2 separate regions of the Homo sapiens genome follow, and region 2 is linked to region 1. A link means that fine-mapping ties the variant in region 1 to the expression of a gene that starts in the linked region. Tissue or cell type: minor salivary gland. Region 1 holds a variant in brackets; the other region holds the start of a gene. All regions are shown on one strand. Distances are between the middles of the regions.

The links. PIP is the estimated chance that this variant, and not a neighbour inherited with it, causes the effect.
Region 2: it holds the start of SSTR5-AS1, and the variant in region 1 is fine-mapped to the expression of SSTR5-AS1 in minor salivary gland (GTEx, PIP 0.99).

Annotation. Positions count from the first base shown.
Region 1 is chr16:712,957-720,956 of GRCh38, forward strand. It overlaps METRN (meteorin, glial cell differentiation regulator), which reads left to right and starts at 2,162. Exons shown (of 4, transcript NM_024042.4): 1 at 2,162-2,437; 2 at 2,628-3,028; 3 at 3,977-4,036; 4 at 4,115-6,699. The coding sequence starts at 2,334. The coding sequence ends at 4,431. RefSeq lists enhancers at 1,178-1,776, 2,375-2,972, 2,973-3,570, 3,571-4,168, 6,766-7,473 and 1 more and silencers at 1,921-2,230, 2,331-2,760, 2,861-2,920, 7,831-8,000. The variant A/G (reference allele first, on the strand shown) is at 3,323.
Region 2 is chr16:1,074,996-1,082,995 of GRCh38, forward strand. SSTR5-AS1 (SSTR5 antisense RNA 1) reads right to left here and starts at 3,736. Exons shown (of 4, transcript NR_027242.1): 1 at 3,463-3,736; 2 at 2,629-2,717. SSTR5 (somatostatin receptor 5) reads left to right here. Exons shown (of 2, transcript NM_001172560.3): 2 at 3,847-6,459. The coding sequence starts at 3,874. The coding sequence ends at 4,968. RefSeq lists enhancers at 3,490-4,154, 7,936-8,000.

The DNA.
Region 1 (8,000 bases):
GCCTCCAGGCTCATCCAGGCTGTAGCGGGTGTCAAGGGACCAGAACTTCATTCCTTTTTATGGCTTAATAATGGACCCACCGCCAGGGGGTGCCGTGGCTCATGCCTGTAATCCCAACACTTTGGGAGGCTGAGGTGGGCGGATCACCTGAGGTCGGGAGTTCAAGACCAGCCTGACCAGCATGGAGAAACCTCGTCTCTACTAAAAATACAAAATTAGCCGGCATGATGGCACATGCCTGTAATCCCAGCTGCTCGGGAGGCTGACGCAGGAGAATCGCTTGAACCCAGGAGGTGGAGGTTGCAGTGAGCCAAGATCGCGCCATTGCACTCCAGACTGGGCAAAGAGCGAAACTCCATCTCAAAAAAAAAAAAAAAAAAAAAAAAAAAAAAGAGGCCGGGCGCGGTGGCTCACATCTGTAATCCCAGCACTTTGGGAGGCCAAGGCGGGCAGATCACGAGGTCAGGAGATCGAGACCATCCTGGCTAACACGGTGAAACACCCTCTCTACTAAAAAAAGAAAAAATACAAAAATTTAGCCGGGTGTGGTGGCGGGCGCCTGTAGTCTCAGCTGCTCGGGAGGCTGAGGCAGGAGAATGGCATGAACCCAGGAGGCAGAGGTTGCAGTGAGCCGAGATCGAGCCACTGCACTCCAGCCTGGGCGACAGAACGAGATTCCGTCTCAAAAAAAAAAAAAAAAATGGACCCACTGCACTTGCTTGTCCACTCAGCTGCAGACAGGCCTTTGGGAGTCTTCCACCTTTTGGGGATTGTGATGGCTACTTCTGACCTGCACCTCGCCCAGAGCAAGGGGCTGGCCGAGCCCAGTAGGCGCCTTGTTCCTGTTTGGCCTGGGAGGGCCCTGGGGTTGAGGGAGGGCCTGGTCAGTGGGATCCAGCCTCCCACTGCCACTGAGCCATCTGGCCTCATCTGTCCGACTGCCACTGGTGAACTCATCTGTCCACCATGAGTTTCGAGCGCCGGGTGGCAGGAGGTTTGGGGGCAGGGGACGGAATGTTCACATCTTCAGGCTGCACAGTCTATGCTGGTCCTTGCAGTCCCCGGCTAAAGCTTCTGTCGTCCGTAAGGGGTTCAGTATGTAGTGGGACCCCTTTGCTTGTGCCTTAGGCCTTCTGTGATCTGACCTGTCGTCCCCACCCACCACCCATGCCCTGGGGTTTCACTGGGCTGCCAAGAGCTCCTTCCTCAGGCCCTTGACCCAGGCTGTCTGCTCTCCCCCATTCTCTTCCTGTCCACCTGGCCAGCCACTGCCCACTTCCTCCCATCAGGCCAACTCAGCAGTCCCGGATGCTGGGAATCCCACACTGCTCCAGCCTGAGGCTACAGTGTGTTTGCGAATCGCCTGTTTCTGCTTGTTTCATCTTGGTGGGGGCTGCTCCTGTGGCCCAGGGGTGTCCTCCCAGCTCCTGTGTCTCCACGTGCTGCAGGCCTGCAGGGGTGCCCGTGGCTGCTCCATTCACGCCCCTCCAGGAGCCCCGTCTGGCCCGGGGTCGGTCATCCGGCAACTATGGGGTGCCGCTAGGTCTGAGGAAAGGGGCCTAAGCCTGCGGGCTGCGCGCTCTTCAGCAGGACCCCCTCCTGCAGACGGCCTTACCAAAACCCGAGGCCTGGCCCCGCTCCAAGGCGCAGCCCCCAGGCCAGGCCTTCCCCGCCTCTGGAGTCATGACCCCTCTCCTCTGGGGCTCCACCGGCCTCTGGTCAGCAGGACCGGACCTGGTTGGGAGGGATGTGGCCAACAGGCCCAGGTCCCAGTGTTAGGAAGGAGCAGGCCCGGCCGCCCGCGAGGCGGAACCACCAGGTGGGCCACCTTCCCTACCGCCACCCCGAGGTTCCAGTGGACATCAAAACCTCGGCTCCATCAGAGGCTCCAGGACTCCGATCGGGACAGCGCGGGGGGCGAGGCCAGGGTGAGGGCGCGGCGAAGGAGAGACGCACAGCGCGGGGCGGGCAAGGAGCCTCCCTTCCGCGCCAAGGCCCCCCCCAACCCTCGAGGCGCTTGGACCGTGGGATAGTCCTCCGGCGGCGCCCGAGCTCCGGCCCCGCCCCCGCTCCGCCCCGCGCCTGCTATTGGCGGAAAGTTCCGGGCCGCGCCGCGACTGGCCGACACGCCGCAGGCCCCGCCCCCTTCCCGACCCGCTCCAAGGCGGCCCCGGCGCTGGGGCTGCGCGGCAGGCGGAGCGGCCGCGGGCTTGGGGGCTTCGCCGGGGCCGGGCGGCCGGCGCCCCCGGCTGCTCCCGCCGCCGCCCGGACCCGCGCCCCGCCGGGGCAGCGGTGGTGAGAGCCCCGACTCCCCGGACGCCGCCCGCCGTGCCATGGGGTTCCCGGCCGCGGCGCTGCTCTGCGCGCTGTGCTGCGGCCTCCTGGCCCCGGCTGCCCGCGCCGGCTACTCCGAGGAGCGCTGCAGCTGGAGGGGCAGGTACGGTCCGGGGGGCTGTCCCCGCACTTAGGACGGGGTGCGCTGCGGCTAGGACCCCCCAGGCGCCCCTCGGAGCGCGCAGAGCGCTGGGCCGGTTTCCCCATCCGCGAGGCGGCCTCGGGAGGGAGCGGGGGCTGCGCCGGGCGGGGACCCGCCCCCGTCTCAGCGCCCCGTCCCGTCCTGTCCCCAGCGGCCTCACCCAGGAGCCCGGCAGCGTGGGGCAGCTGGCCCTGGCCTGTGCGGAGGGCGCGGTTGAGTGGCTGTACCCGGCTGGGGCGCTGCGCCTGACCCTGGGCGGCCCCGATCCCAGAGCGCGGCCCGGCATCGCCTGTCTGCGGCCGGTGCGGCCCTTCGCGGGCGCCCAGGTCTTCGCGGAGCGCGCAGGGGGCGCCCTGGAGCTGCTGCTGGCCGAGGGCCCGGGCCCGGCAGGGGGCCGCTGCGTGCGCTGGGGTCCCCGCGAGCGCCGGGCCCTCTTCCTGCAGGCCACGCCGCACCAGGACATCAGCCGCCGCGTGGCCGCCTTCCGCTTTGAGCTGCGCGAGGACGGGCGCCCCGAGCTGCCCCCGCAGGCCCACGGTCTCGGCGTAGACGGTGAGTGGCGGTCTGGTTGGGACAGGGTGGGAGTCCCGAAGTCTTACCCTGCCTGGGCTTGGCGGGAATGTGCCTTGTCGGCCCCACTGCAGAAGGAAAAAGTGAGCTACAAGGGTTGGATGGGCTTGTCAGGCCACACAGCCTGGGACTGCTGGGGAGGGATGGCCTCCCCGCCCTCCCTTCCCGATTCATCTCTGGAAAGAGCTGGCAGGGGCAGAGTGGAGGGAAGGGGAGGCCGGGCCCAGCAATCCTGGGCCTCTGGTCCCTGAACGGTTGGGGGAAGAGATGGTGGGG[A/G]CAGAATCGAAGCCTCCGGCCAAAGCTGTCCGGGGCTCCCTGGCCCAGCGGTGACCTCTCTCCCCTCCCCCAGCCCAACCAACAAAAGTCCAGTGTGCAGCCCGGTCACCATGGAGACGCCGCTCGCCTCCCTGCAGGGCACCAGGCCCAGCTCTTGCTTGGCTCTCCTGGAGCTTGGCGCCTGACCCTGAAAGGGATGGGCTCTCGCTATTCTGCCCCCTGGCCCTGGGCCAGGGACCCCAGACCACCCTTCCTCTGCCCCCACTTCCTATCACCCTAGCTGGGCTGCTGCTCTTCAGACCTCAGATCCGGGAAACTAGAGGGGTCCCAGATGCTGGGGTGCATATGTCAGATGGGAGTGCAGGAGGGCGGCCCAGGACAGCTGATCGCTAGGCATGGCCCCCAGGCCCACGTCTGTGTGCATTCCTGCCTTGGAGGTACGCGCCTGCAAGTGTGTTTCCTGAGTACAGGTGTCGCCGAGGGCGTGCACATCTGCTGTGTAGCTCTCTGGGACCCCCAGGTGCCATCAGGCCCTGAGCGTGGGCTCTGCTCATTTGCCTGCTGCCTCCTGCCGCTTGTGCGGACAAGGGACGGGGCCTGGGGTGATGCCGGGAGAGGGCAGGGCCTCTCCTCACCACCCCCTCTGCATGCCAGGTGCCTGCAGGCCCTGCAGCGACGCTGAGCTGCTCCTGGCCGCATGCACCAGCGACTTCGGTGAGTGTCCCCGCCATGGGGGGAGCCTGGAGCCTGCCTTCCCCTGAATGCCTACCGCAGCCACATGCCTCCCCACAGTAATTCACGGGATCATCCATGGGGTCACCCATGACGTGGAGCTGCAGGAGTCTGTCATCACTGTGGTGGCCGCCCGTGTCCTCCGCCAGACACCGCCGCTGTTCCAGGCGGGGCGATCCGGGGACCAGGGGCTGACCTCCATTCGTACCCCACTGCGCTGTGGCGTCCACCCGGGCCCAGGCACCTTCCTCTTCATGGGCTGGAGCCGCTTTGGGGAGGCCCGGCTGGGCTGTGCCCCACGATTCCAGGAGTTCCGCCGTGCCTACGAGGCTGCCCGTGCTGCCCACCTCCACCCCTGCGAGGTGGCGCTGCACTGAGGGGCTGGGTGCTGGGGAGGGGCTGGTAGGAGGGAGGGTGGGCCCACTGCTTTGGAGGTGATGGGACTATCAATAAGAACTCTGTTCACGCAAGCTGCTGTGGACCTGGTCTCCTGTGTCCAGCCCAGCCTTGGGCCTGCCTCGCAGCTGTGAGGATGGCTCCAATTCCTGCCTCCTGGCGGGAGACTGAGGCTCAGGGGAATGGTATCTTGTTCAAGACCATTTGGCAACTGAGAGGGAGAGCAGATGTCAGGAGGAGCTACACCCACATTCCGGGGAGGGGCCGCTGCTGGGTGGGGGGCACGTGGGGACCTGCACTCATGCAAGCTTCTGCTCTGCTGCACCCACCAGCCCCGTCCTTGCCCGCACCCTTGCCTGCTTCCCTGGCTGGCTCCCACTTGCCTCCCGTGCCAGGTGCTTCTGGGGCTCAGCAGGAGAGGAAAGGGGCAGAGGGGCATAGGGTCCCTCGGGTACGGTGGGGGCAGGCGGGCGCACAGCGCTCCGGCTCTGAGCCAGGCCTGTGAGGGAAGGGGCTGCAGGCTGGCAGGGTGCCGACTTCCCCCATGGCTGCTGTGAGCCCGCAGAGTCATCCTTGGCCCCGTCCCGCCCTTGGGGAAGAATGGGCCCCTCTGTCCTCAGGCCCCTTCGACGTGCTGAGCATCCAGACGTGGCGAGGAGCCCGAAGGGTGTGGGGTCCCCTCTGCAGGGTCCTGCTTGTTGCCTGTTTCCGGCGGGCGGGGTGCACAATGGGGTCTCTAAGGACCGTTTCCCGCCACTGGCCCCATTGTCACTGTCTCCGCCTTCCTCCTCGGCCTTTCAGCCGCATAAAGGGCCAGTGAGGTTTGGGACAGCCACAGCCCAAGGCTCCGAGGCTAAAAGCCCCTGGGTGGGGGTGTTCCAGGACACCTGGCCCTGTGTGAGCTGCCTCCTCTCACCCCAACCCCTCGGATCCTGGGAAAGAGACAGCCATGGCTCAAGGGCCAGGGACCCCTGGGCTGAGCCCCAGAAATGGCTTTCCATTCTCGCCTGGGCCGGGGTGGGGGTGGAGGCCAGAGGCCCTGCCCAGGCAGATGAAGCCCCCAGCTTTCAAGGGGGAAACTGAGGCTGTGTGAGGGACACAGCTGTGCAGGGCCCACAAACACGGTCCTTTCTCTAGGTTAGCGGATGCAGATGCCTGATGAGTGCCATGCCCTCTGTGGACACCTGGGGAGGGGGGTCACCTCCAGCGCCGCCCTGGGACTTCCACTGCACGTGCAAGAGACTTACCCTTTCACACAGATCACCTGCCTGCCGCAGGGCTGATGAGGATGGGTGAGGAGCGCAGCCACTGGGTGTCATGCACTGTGGGGGTTCTCCCACCTTCTGCCCCTCCTCAGGTTCCTTGCTGCTTCTCTCCTCTCCCAACTGTGGCACGCTGAGGGCTCAGGCACAGGACCGCTCCTCTGGGGCAGCCTCCAATAACCCTTGGACAACCTCCACTTTTTCATCTTCAGCCCTGACCACTCCCTGGGGCCCATAGCCTTACATCCATCTGCCCCCAGCCCAAACACTTCTGCAAACACTAGAAAAGGAGGTAGCCCGTGTGCCCTCCTGCACCGCCTCCTCCACTCCTGTCTTGGAGAGGCTTTCCCGTGGGCCGAGCAACCCCCTTACCTTTGGCACTTGCCCTGATTCTCTGGCCAGCTTCCTACAACCTCTCCTTTTCAGCCACACCCAAGTCCACCTGTTCACAAACACCCTGGGCTGGGCCCTGGCCGAACCCTGGCTTCTACCTACCTGTCTCAGGAAGTGCCTGAGCCTTGCACCTACAGACCCTCCCAGAGAAAGCCCTGGCTTTGCAACCAGCTGTCTTCTCATGAGACACAGGGCCACAGGAGCACCACGGTGCCCAAATGGGTCTTGGAGCATTAGACCAGGGGCTTCATGCCTGCCCTGGGGACAGGTGGCCAAAGTGGCATGGGAGATAGGGAGACAGTGTGGGTGAGCAGGTGGGCAGGAGCTACAGGAGCCTGGGGCCTGTGGATCACAGACACCGCCAGGCAAGTGCCAGTTCACACAGGTACAGGTGGCTGCAGAGTGCCCAAAGGCCAAGCAGCAGAGTGCCTGGTGTGGACGGGAGAGGAGTGGGGAGGTTGGGCGCAGTGGCTCACGCCTGTAATCCCAACACTTTGGGAGGCCCAGGCAAGCAGATCATGAGGTCAGGAGATGGAGACCATCCTGGCCAACATGGTGAAACCGTCTCTAATAAAACACAAAAAATTAGCCAGACATGGTGGCATGCATCTGTAATCCCAGCTACTCAAAAGGCTGAGGCAGAGGAATCACTTGAACCTGGAAGGCAGAGGTTGCAGTGAGCCAAGACTGCGCCACTGCACTCCAACCTGGGCGAAAGAGCGAGACTCAAGTCTCAAAAAAAAAAAAAAAAAAAAAAAAAAAAAAAAAAGAAGAGTGGAGAGTGCACGCTAGAGTCCAATTAGGTGCATTCATCCAGTAAGCCTCCTAGGTAACTGCTCTAGGTGCAGGGAATAATGCAGGCAGCAGGACAGGAATGGGCGCTGTCAGCTCCCCCTAGAGCTCAGTGTACATACACCCTTCCTTTCCTGGGAGGGCCGTTCCAGGCCCCCAGGAGACAGGACACGCTGAGCTGGGTGGGGCTGGGGCCAACGTGGGCAGGCCTGTGAGACTCTGCACTTGGGAGCTGGGGGCTGTGGTCTGCGGCATACCCATGTCTGGAAGCAGCCTCTGTCCCTGCAGGGGCTCTAGACCCCAGCCACGGATGGCTAAGGAGGAGCTAGGCCAGGGCACGCATAGACAACCCCCGACATTCACGGGTGTTCAGCCCTACCCTGGGTGTGGAGGTCGTGGCCCAGCTGCCTGACCCAGAGCTCGGCTCTTCCACTTGCGCTTCCCACCCCCAGCTTCACAAGGTCACCTCCAGGAACTCAGTCTTTTTGTGTGTTGTTTTCTGGAGAAGGAAGGTGATCTCCCCACTCCCGGGGCTGTCTGCCTTCCCTGTAGCTGGCAGGTGCCAGAGGCCCCCGCCTGTGACATCCGGCTTTCCTCCCACCACACTCGCCTGAGAGCCAGCATCTGTCTTCTTGGGCCTGCTCAAGCTCTCCTCCGTGTCAGCCCCTCCTCCATGCCCTTCTCCCTCAGACCCCACCCCCCATCCCTTCACCGCCCACTGGGGCTCATCGCTCAGGCTGTAGGAGGGAAATGGAAGGATGTCCTCCCGGGCTCTGGCTGGCGCTGGGTGTCCGAGTCAGCGGAGCGCCCCCAGCAGTCTCCCCGAGGCAGAGTCATGGGGGTGCTGGCGCCTGGACGCTGTCTCATCCCGGGGAGCCGCTTTCCCACCGGCTCCCTGGGCTCCAGCCGCCCCACGCGAGCCCCCGGCTGGTTCTGGGGCCAGGACCGCCCCTCTCCAAGGCAGACTTCCCTTCATTCCACGACAAAGACGCGCAGCCCCGTTTCCCTGGGGCTCTAGCCCGTGAGATCGCCGGGTGTATCCCGACTCCCGCCGGCACGTGCGCTCCCCCAGGGCAGGGCCTGCCTGTCCCCTTCCGCGGGTC
Region 2 (8,000 bases), 360 kb after region 1:
AGCAGATCCCTTCGTGGCCGAGGGCTCGGGATCAGAAAGCTCCTACTGCTGGCTCCCCCTCCAGTGAATCCCCCACCCACAAGGGACAGGGCCACCGGGACAATTCCCCGTGAGTGCGTAATTTTATGATTCAGAGGATACTGCTTCCAAATAACGGCTCTTGCAGAATTATGTTCCAAGAGTCAGGTACAGCAATAATGGTCTATTTGTGTCCTTTGCTGCTCTGAAGTCTAACTCCGGAGGTGGAGCACTGGGGGCCGCAGAGCCGGGGACCTGGCAGCCTGTGGAGCCCCTCGCTGGGCTCTGGGCATGGGAGTGGCCTTGGAGGAACCCTGAGGCTCCTCTGAAGCTAAGAAGCTACAAAGACAGGGAGGCTGAGGCAGGAGGATCACTTGAGCACAGGTCGAGGCTGCAGTGAGCTGTGATCACAGCACCACTTCGATCCAGCTCGGGCAACAGAGCAAGACCCCATCTCGAAAACAAAAAATCAAACAGGCATTTGGGAACCACACGTGCTGGGGACCCAGGGCCTGTGTTGGAGATGGACCGGAGCCCGACAGCCGCCCTCTCCCTGTCCCACCATCGGTGGCTCCTCTGTCCCCTCCACCTGGCCTCCTTGCTACGGAGGAATGGGCCGAAAGTGCCTCCCCAGGGAGGGTGCAGCTCAGAGGCCTCTGCACCTGGGCCGCCATCCCACCCACCTGGACTCCCACGCAGCCCGCGGGCTGTCTCCAGACCACTGTCCTTCCGGAATGCATGCTCCACAGGCAGCCAGAGGGAGCCGCAAACATGGCGTGTTGGATTTCCATGCTGGTCCCTGGGGAGCGGAGAGCCACAGGCCTCTTCCCCTCCCTCTCCCTCTCCCTCCCTCCCTCTCTCCCCCTACCCTGTCTCTCTCTCTCCCCCCCCACTCTCTCTCCCTCCCTCTCTCCCCCCACCCTGTCTTTCTCTCTCCCTCCCCACCTCCCCCTCTCTCTCCCTCCCCCTCCTCCCCCTCCCTCTCCCCCCACCTTTTCTCTCTCCCTCCCCACCTCCCCCTCCCTCTCCCTCCCCCCTCACCTCCCCTCCCTTTCCCTCCCTCTCTCCCTCTCTCCTCCCCTCCCCCTCCCTCTCCCTCCCTCTCTCCCTCTCTCCTCCCCGCCTCCCCATCCCTCTCCCTCTCCCTCCTCTCTCTCTCCCCCTACCCTGTTTTCTCTCTCCCTCCCCGCCTCCCCCTCCCTCTCCCCCATACCCTATCTTTCTCTCTCCCTCCCTGCCACCCCCTCCCTCTCCCTCTCCCTCTCCCTCTCCCTCTCCCTCCCTCTCTCCCCACACCCTGTCTTTCTTTCTCCCTCCCCACCTCCCCTCTTCTCCCACCCCGGGGTCTGCGTGGAGGCCACTGCTCCGTCCCTGCTGAGGATTCTGCTGCACTCTGGCTCCTGCCTGTGGGAATCCGTCCTGTCTCTCTGGCTGGTGTCTCTCTGGCTGGCGTCCCTGCCCAGATGCCGCAGCTTGATGGGGATGCTCTTTCATTCCTTTATGCTGCTTGGGACAGGTGCGCTCCCAGAAGGGATCCTGTCGCCAGTTCTGGGGGAGCCCAGCCATGCTCTCCCCCTGCCCACCCCACAGAGCCCTCTCTGGACCTTGTGCCAGCACCCTGCTCCAGTGAATCTTTCAACCCTCTTCCCATTCACCAATTCTCTCTTCAGTGCTGTCCACACTGGAGTTGGTTCTGACCACTTTTGTAGTGTTTTTTTCCACTTAAATGATTGTATTTTTTACATCCAGGATTTGTAATTTTTAAAAATAGATGCCTGTTCATTTTACTCCTTAGACAGAAGCCAAATGTATTTCCTAACATTTTATCCATGCTGTCTCTGTGGATCCTGCACATATTTAAACATAGCCTAAGCGTACCTGTTTGCTCGTTATTTTTATCTCCCTGAGATGGATCCATGGGTCCACTGGCCCTGTTGATTTTCTGAGTCGTATTTCTTAGTGTGTTTGGGCCATGCGAGCTTGGGGATGTTGATTTCTAGGTTTGTTGGGGACAGAGGGCTTTCTCTTTGTGCTGTCAGCCTTGTGTTCTGGGCTCCCCCGTCCCCAGCTCTCCTTTCCTTGTCTACCAGATTTCAGTGGCCTTGGCCCAGCCCCACAGCCCCCAGCCAGGACTGTGGCCTTTCCTGGCAGCTGCTGGGGTCGTCCTGTGCTCTGAGGTGCCTCCAGGGTCAGGGCCGGTCAGCTGAGCAGCCCCAGGGCTCCAGACGGCACATGCTGAGGTCACCACAGCCGGCTCCACCCCTGCTCAGGCCGAGGTCCCCCAGGGAGGGGCTTGTCCCTGGTCTGGATCCTAGGGGACACTTTGATTCTCTGCTGGCCACCCCCAGAGTCACACAGCTCCAGGGTCAACCCAAACATCCGGACTTCCTCCGCCCCACTCGTCAGGGGAGGCATTGATCTTCTTTTTGAGACAGGGTCTTGCTCAGTCACCCAGGCTGGCGTGCAGTGGTGTAATCACAGCTCACTGCAGCCTCAACCTCCTGGGCTCAAATGATCCTCCTGACTCAGCCTCCTCAGTGGCTGGGACTACAGGCGCCCGCCACCACACTTGGCTAATTTTTGTATTTTTTGTAGAGACGGGGGTCTCACCATGTTGCCCAGGCTGGTCTTGAACTCCTGTCCTCAGGTGATCCACCCGCCTCGGCCTCCCACAGTGCTGGGATGACAGGCTTGAGCCACTGCACCCAGCCGGAGTATCATTTTTATGAATGATTTCAAACATGCAGAAAAATACAAAAACAATATACGAGGTACACACGTGCCCATGGCCTTGGACCCACAGACGTCACCATTCCCAGCCCACCCTTCTCCATGGACACCCCTCCCTCCCCTCCCCCAAGTCTCCCCTGTTCTCTCTCTGGGCCACAGTGGGGGGTTCCAGGGCCTGGGAGGGGGCTCAAAGCTCCGATGGGACTGGGCAGTGTCAGGTGGCTGCAGCCCCCATACGCTATGCCTCTGACCCGCCCACACCCCCCACCGCGGCTTCTCCTCCGGGCTGCAGGGTGTGCAGCCCCCGCCCGCAGTCCCCCCTCCTTCGCCCTGTGTGACTCCTGGGGCTCCGTGTGACCACTCTGTGTGGTTTGTGTGTTTGCTTCTCTGCAGCCGCCCCGTGGGGAGGGTGGTGTCTCTCTGGCCCTGTGCTGTGCCCCCGCCTGGGTTTACAGATGTCTGTCATTGCTGTGGGGGTGACGGTCCCTGCGCTGGCCTGGAGAGAGGTTCGGGGCCAACGGGCAGCGGGCACCCCGGTGAAAGTCCCTCGAGGCTGCGGTGGCGACACCACGTCCAGCCACTTCTCAGGTCGTCCTAGCCAGGTGCCATTCATCCCAGGCGGACAGGGGGCCGACCACCGGCCCCATCTCTCTCCACTGCCACCTCTCCCTGTGTGTCCCGGGAGGGGCCGCCCGCTGGGCCTCGGCTCCTTACCTGGTAGACGAGGGCAGCAGCACTGCAGGGCAGGCTCTGAGGGGCTTCAGGGAGACGCAGGTGCTGGCCTCAGACTCCAGGATGCTGCGGCCAGGCCAGGCGCCATCTGGGTGCAGGGGCGGCCACAGGGCAGCTGTCGCCATATCGACAGCAGCCGTCCGTCTGGGCTCCCGGGGCCACCTGCCCGCCGCTCCTTCCTCTCCTGGCTTATTTTCCAAACAATTTGCTTAACGTGATTCCCGGCCAAGCTAAACATGACTAATCGTGTTTACCCGGTGATCCCGCGCCTCCTGGCAGGCGGGGCTGGGGCCCAGGAGGAAGGAATGCCTGCATGTGCTGGTTCAGGGACTCACCACCCTGGCGTCCTCCCTTCTTCTCTTGCAGAGCCTGACGCACCCCAGGGCTGCCGCCATGGAGCCCCTGTTCCCAGCCTCCACGCCCAGCTGGAACGCCTCCTCCCCGGGGGCTGCCTCTGGAGGCGGTGACAACAGGACGCTGGTGGGGCCGGCGCCCTCGGCAGGGGCCCGGGCGGTGCTGGTGCCCGTGCTGTACCTGCTGGTGTGTGCGGCCGGGCTGGGCGGGAACACGCTGGTCATCTACGTGGTGCTGCGCTTCGCCAAGATGAAGACCGTCACCAACATCTACATTCTCAACCTGGCAGTGGCCGACGTCCTGTACATGCTGGGGCTGCCTTTCCTGGCCACGCAGAACGCCGCGTCCTTCTGGCCCTTCGGCCCCGTCCTGTGCCGCCTGGTCATGACGCTGGACGGCGTCAACCAGTTCACCAGTGTCTTCTGCCTGACAGTCATGAGCGTGGACCGCTACCTGGCAGTGGTGCACCCGCTGAGCTCGGCCCGCTGGCGCCGCCCGCGTGTGGCCAAGCTGGCGAGCGCCGCGGCCTGGGTCCTGTCTCTGTGCATGTCGCTGCCGCTCCTGGTGTTCGCGGACGTGCAGGAGGGCGGTACCTGCAACGCCAGCTGGCCGGAGCCCGTGGGGCTGTGGGGCGCCGTCTTCATCATCTACACGGCCGTGCTGGGCTTCTTCGCGCCGCTGCTGGTCATCTGCCTGTGCTACCTGCTCATCGTGGTGAAGGTGAGGGCGGCGGGCGTGCGCGTGGGCTGCGTGCGGCGGCGCTCGGAGCGGAAGGTGACGCGCATGGTGTTGGTGGTGGTGCTGGTGTTTGCGGGATGTTGGCTGCCCTTCTTCACCGTCAACATCGTCAACCTGGCCGTGGCGCTGCCCCAGGAGCCCGCCTCCGCCGGCCTCTACTTCTTCGTGGTCATCCTCTCCTACGCCAACAGCTGTGCCAACCCCGTCCTCTACGGCTTCCTCTCTGACAACTTCCGCCAGAGCTTCCAGAAGGTTCTGTGCCTCCGCAAGGGCTCTGGTGCCAAGGACGCTGACGCCACGGAGCCGCGTCCAGACAGGATCCGGCAGCAGCAGGAGGCCACGCCACCCGCGCACCGCGCCGCAGCCAACGGGCTTATGCAGACCAGCAAGCTGTGAGAGTGCAGGCGGGGGGTGGGCGGCCCCGTGTCACCCCCAGGAGCGGAGGTTGCACTGCGGTGACCCCCACCCATGACCTGCCAGTCAGGATGCTCCCCGGCGGTGGTGTGAGGACAGAGCTGGCTGAAGCCAGGCTGGGGTAGACACAGGGCAGTAGGTTCCCCACCGTGACCGACCATCCCCTCTAACCGTCTGCCACACAGCGGGGGCTCCCGGGAGGTAGGGGAGGTGGCCAGACCGGTGGGGGGCTCCGCCATGCCGTGCAAGTGCTCAGGGCCGCCTCACCCTCCATCTGGCCCCAGCCCATGCCGGCCTTCCCTCTGGGGAGCGACTTTTCCAGAAGGCCGGCCAGGCGAGAGGGTCTTCCTGACGGCGGAGCTGACCTGCCCGGCCCACCAGCTGCATGTCAGCTCCGAGCCACCGGGTCCCCGTCCAAGGCTGCTCTGCTAAGTTAAAGACACCCGAAAGCGCTTGACTCAGGTCCCCGGAGTCCCTGGCCAGGGCCCCAGCCCCTCGCTTGCCCTGCACTGTGTGGACTCTGGGGATGCAGGTGTAAGGGGAGTGTGGCTGGGCAGCCCCTGGTCAGCCAGGGTCACGCCTGTCCTGGGGGCCCCACCCTGCTGCCCGACACCCCCCATGGGAGGCTGCGGGCGGCAGTTGCTGTCTCAGAGAGGGGAGTGTGGGGGCTTGGGCGCTGGCCTAGCCAGGGGCGAGGTGGGGAGGCGGCTGGTGCAGAGGAGAGCTGGGGGCTGAGGTTGGGGTGAAGGCTGCAGCCCTCCAGGCTGCTGGGGGTGCAGATGGCTGTGCCGTGCTGAGATTGGCTCTGTCTGGAGGGGTCCAGTGTGGGGTGCCTGAGGGCACTAGGGAGAGGTGCTCCTGCTGCAGGAGGACCTGAGGGTCAGGGCTTGGAGAGGACAGGGAACCTGCGGCCGTCTCTTCTGCTTTGGGGCAGGGGCTCTGGCCCGGGAGAGGGAACGGGGACAGGAGCAGAGGACGGTCATCCAGGCGCAGCGGGGAGCTGCTCCCCAGGCCACAGCAGACAGCACTGCTGAGAGGCAGCGGCCGCGCGGGTGACGCAAATGGCAGGCCCTGGGAATCCCGCCGCCTCCCACCTAGAATTGTCCTACCTCCCCCACCCCAAACACCAGCTTTTCCTGGCGCCCCAGGCCCAGAACGTGGGCCCAGAGAGCCTTGCTGGGGTCTCTGGGGCACCTTGGCCTTGCTCTGAGGCTGGAAGGAGAAGGACCAGGGTGCGGCATCACTCGGCCTCAGGGACCCCTCTGCCCTGCCCAGCACTGGCCCCGACCCGTGCTCCCGCCGTCTGCCCAGAGCAGGACCTCAACCTCCTGGAGGGCACAGGGAGCGGCTGAGTGGGCACAAATCCTGGCAGGAGAAAGGCCCAGGCTGAGGCCAGGCCTGGGAAACATCCAAGCAGTGAGGACACGCGTGTTTGACAACTGCTCCCCTGAATAAATGCGAGGATAAATGTTTGATTCTTTCCCCGAGCAAATATTGTCCCTGGAGCCGAGTGCAGCCAGCGCAGAGTGAGCGGAGCCTGGGCTCCCCCGAGGCCCGACACAGGGCCCGCCCCCGGCCCCAGCCCCGCTGAGCCAGACAAGGCCGGGACGGGGGCGGCCAAATGCCCAGCAGGAAGCGGGAGGCGTGGAATTCGTGAACAGGGTGAAAAATGATGGAAGCTGCCTGGGGTCTTAGGCTGGAGCTGCCCCTCACAGCTTCTTGACAGCTCTGGGCGGGGCAGGGTGGGCTTCTGCAGGGGGTCCACAAATCTCTGCCTCTTGAGTCACCAAAGAGGGGTGCATCCAGGGTGCACTGGGGGAAACCGAGGCCCGTTCACACCGCAGCACCCCCCTCGACCTGCCTCCCCAGGGATTTGGGTGCCATGTTCACCCTCTCAGAAGGCTTTGGGGACCGAGCAGATGGCTCGGAAATCCCTGCCAAGATCAATTTCTCCAATTGATTTGACACCGGGCGCTCTCCCTGCAGGGCCGGCAGCCACGAGGGGCAGACAGAGGCGCCAGTGCCCTCACTCTCGGGTGAAGACGCCCTTGACCCCCAGCCCATTCGACCCGGCCACAAGCCTCGGGCCACCCTGCTCCCCACCTTGTCCAGCCTGAAGCCCCCAGGACCCCGGTCCCTGTCCGTCCCAGGCCCCAGCCTCATGGCCCTGCCGAGCTCCCCAGTCTGGTCCCGGCCACCCACAGCCCACATCTGTGCCTTTGGTCATAGCCTCGTCCCCATCAGGTGCACACCCTCCCCACAAACCAGACCTGCCGGCACAGCCTCTTCTTCCCTTGACCCCCAGGACGCTGTCACGCTGACCTTCTGGGGACGGTGGGCTCATGACGGCAGCCCCACAGCTGGGCCTAGGACTTACTGCCCTTGACCCCCTGGGCTGGCTGAGCCCTGAACACGTGTCTCCATCGGACAAACACACCTGCAGGGCACCAGCATGGGGCTGGGTCGTGGGATCAAGGTTGAACCGGAAGAGCATTCCAGGCAGAGGGAACAGCCTATGGGAGGGCTCAGAGGCAAAGGGGCACAGGGGGGTTAGCTGTGGGGGTCAATTCAGAGAGAGGAGCAGATCCAGGCCCCTCAAGTTCTGCCCCCATGCTGCCCCAGGGAAGGACGAAGCTGCGCTCACTCCAGCTTGAGAGAGGAGACTGGACGAGAGGCGGGAAGAGGCACACACAGGGAGTGTGCGGAAGCTGTGAGTCATCCAGAACACGCAGCGGCCTGGCCCGGGGCCGGGGCCCCAGGGGTGCTCACGAGGCAGGGGCAGCCCCTGTCCAGGCCTGGAGAAGGGGGCAGTGGCACCTGGCTGGTTCCTGCTTGGAGCACGTGGGAGGACAAGGCCCCGGGGTCTGATGGCCTCAGTGGGCTGAGAGGGCTGAAGATGTCTGGGGAGGTCCCAGGCAGCCCATGGACCAGGCTGGGCAGAGCCACGGGGAAGAGGACAAGGCCTGGATGCCCCCAGGGCACCAGCATGAAAGGCCGGGTGGGGTCAGGTGAGT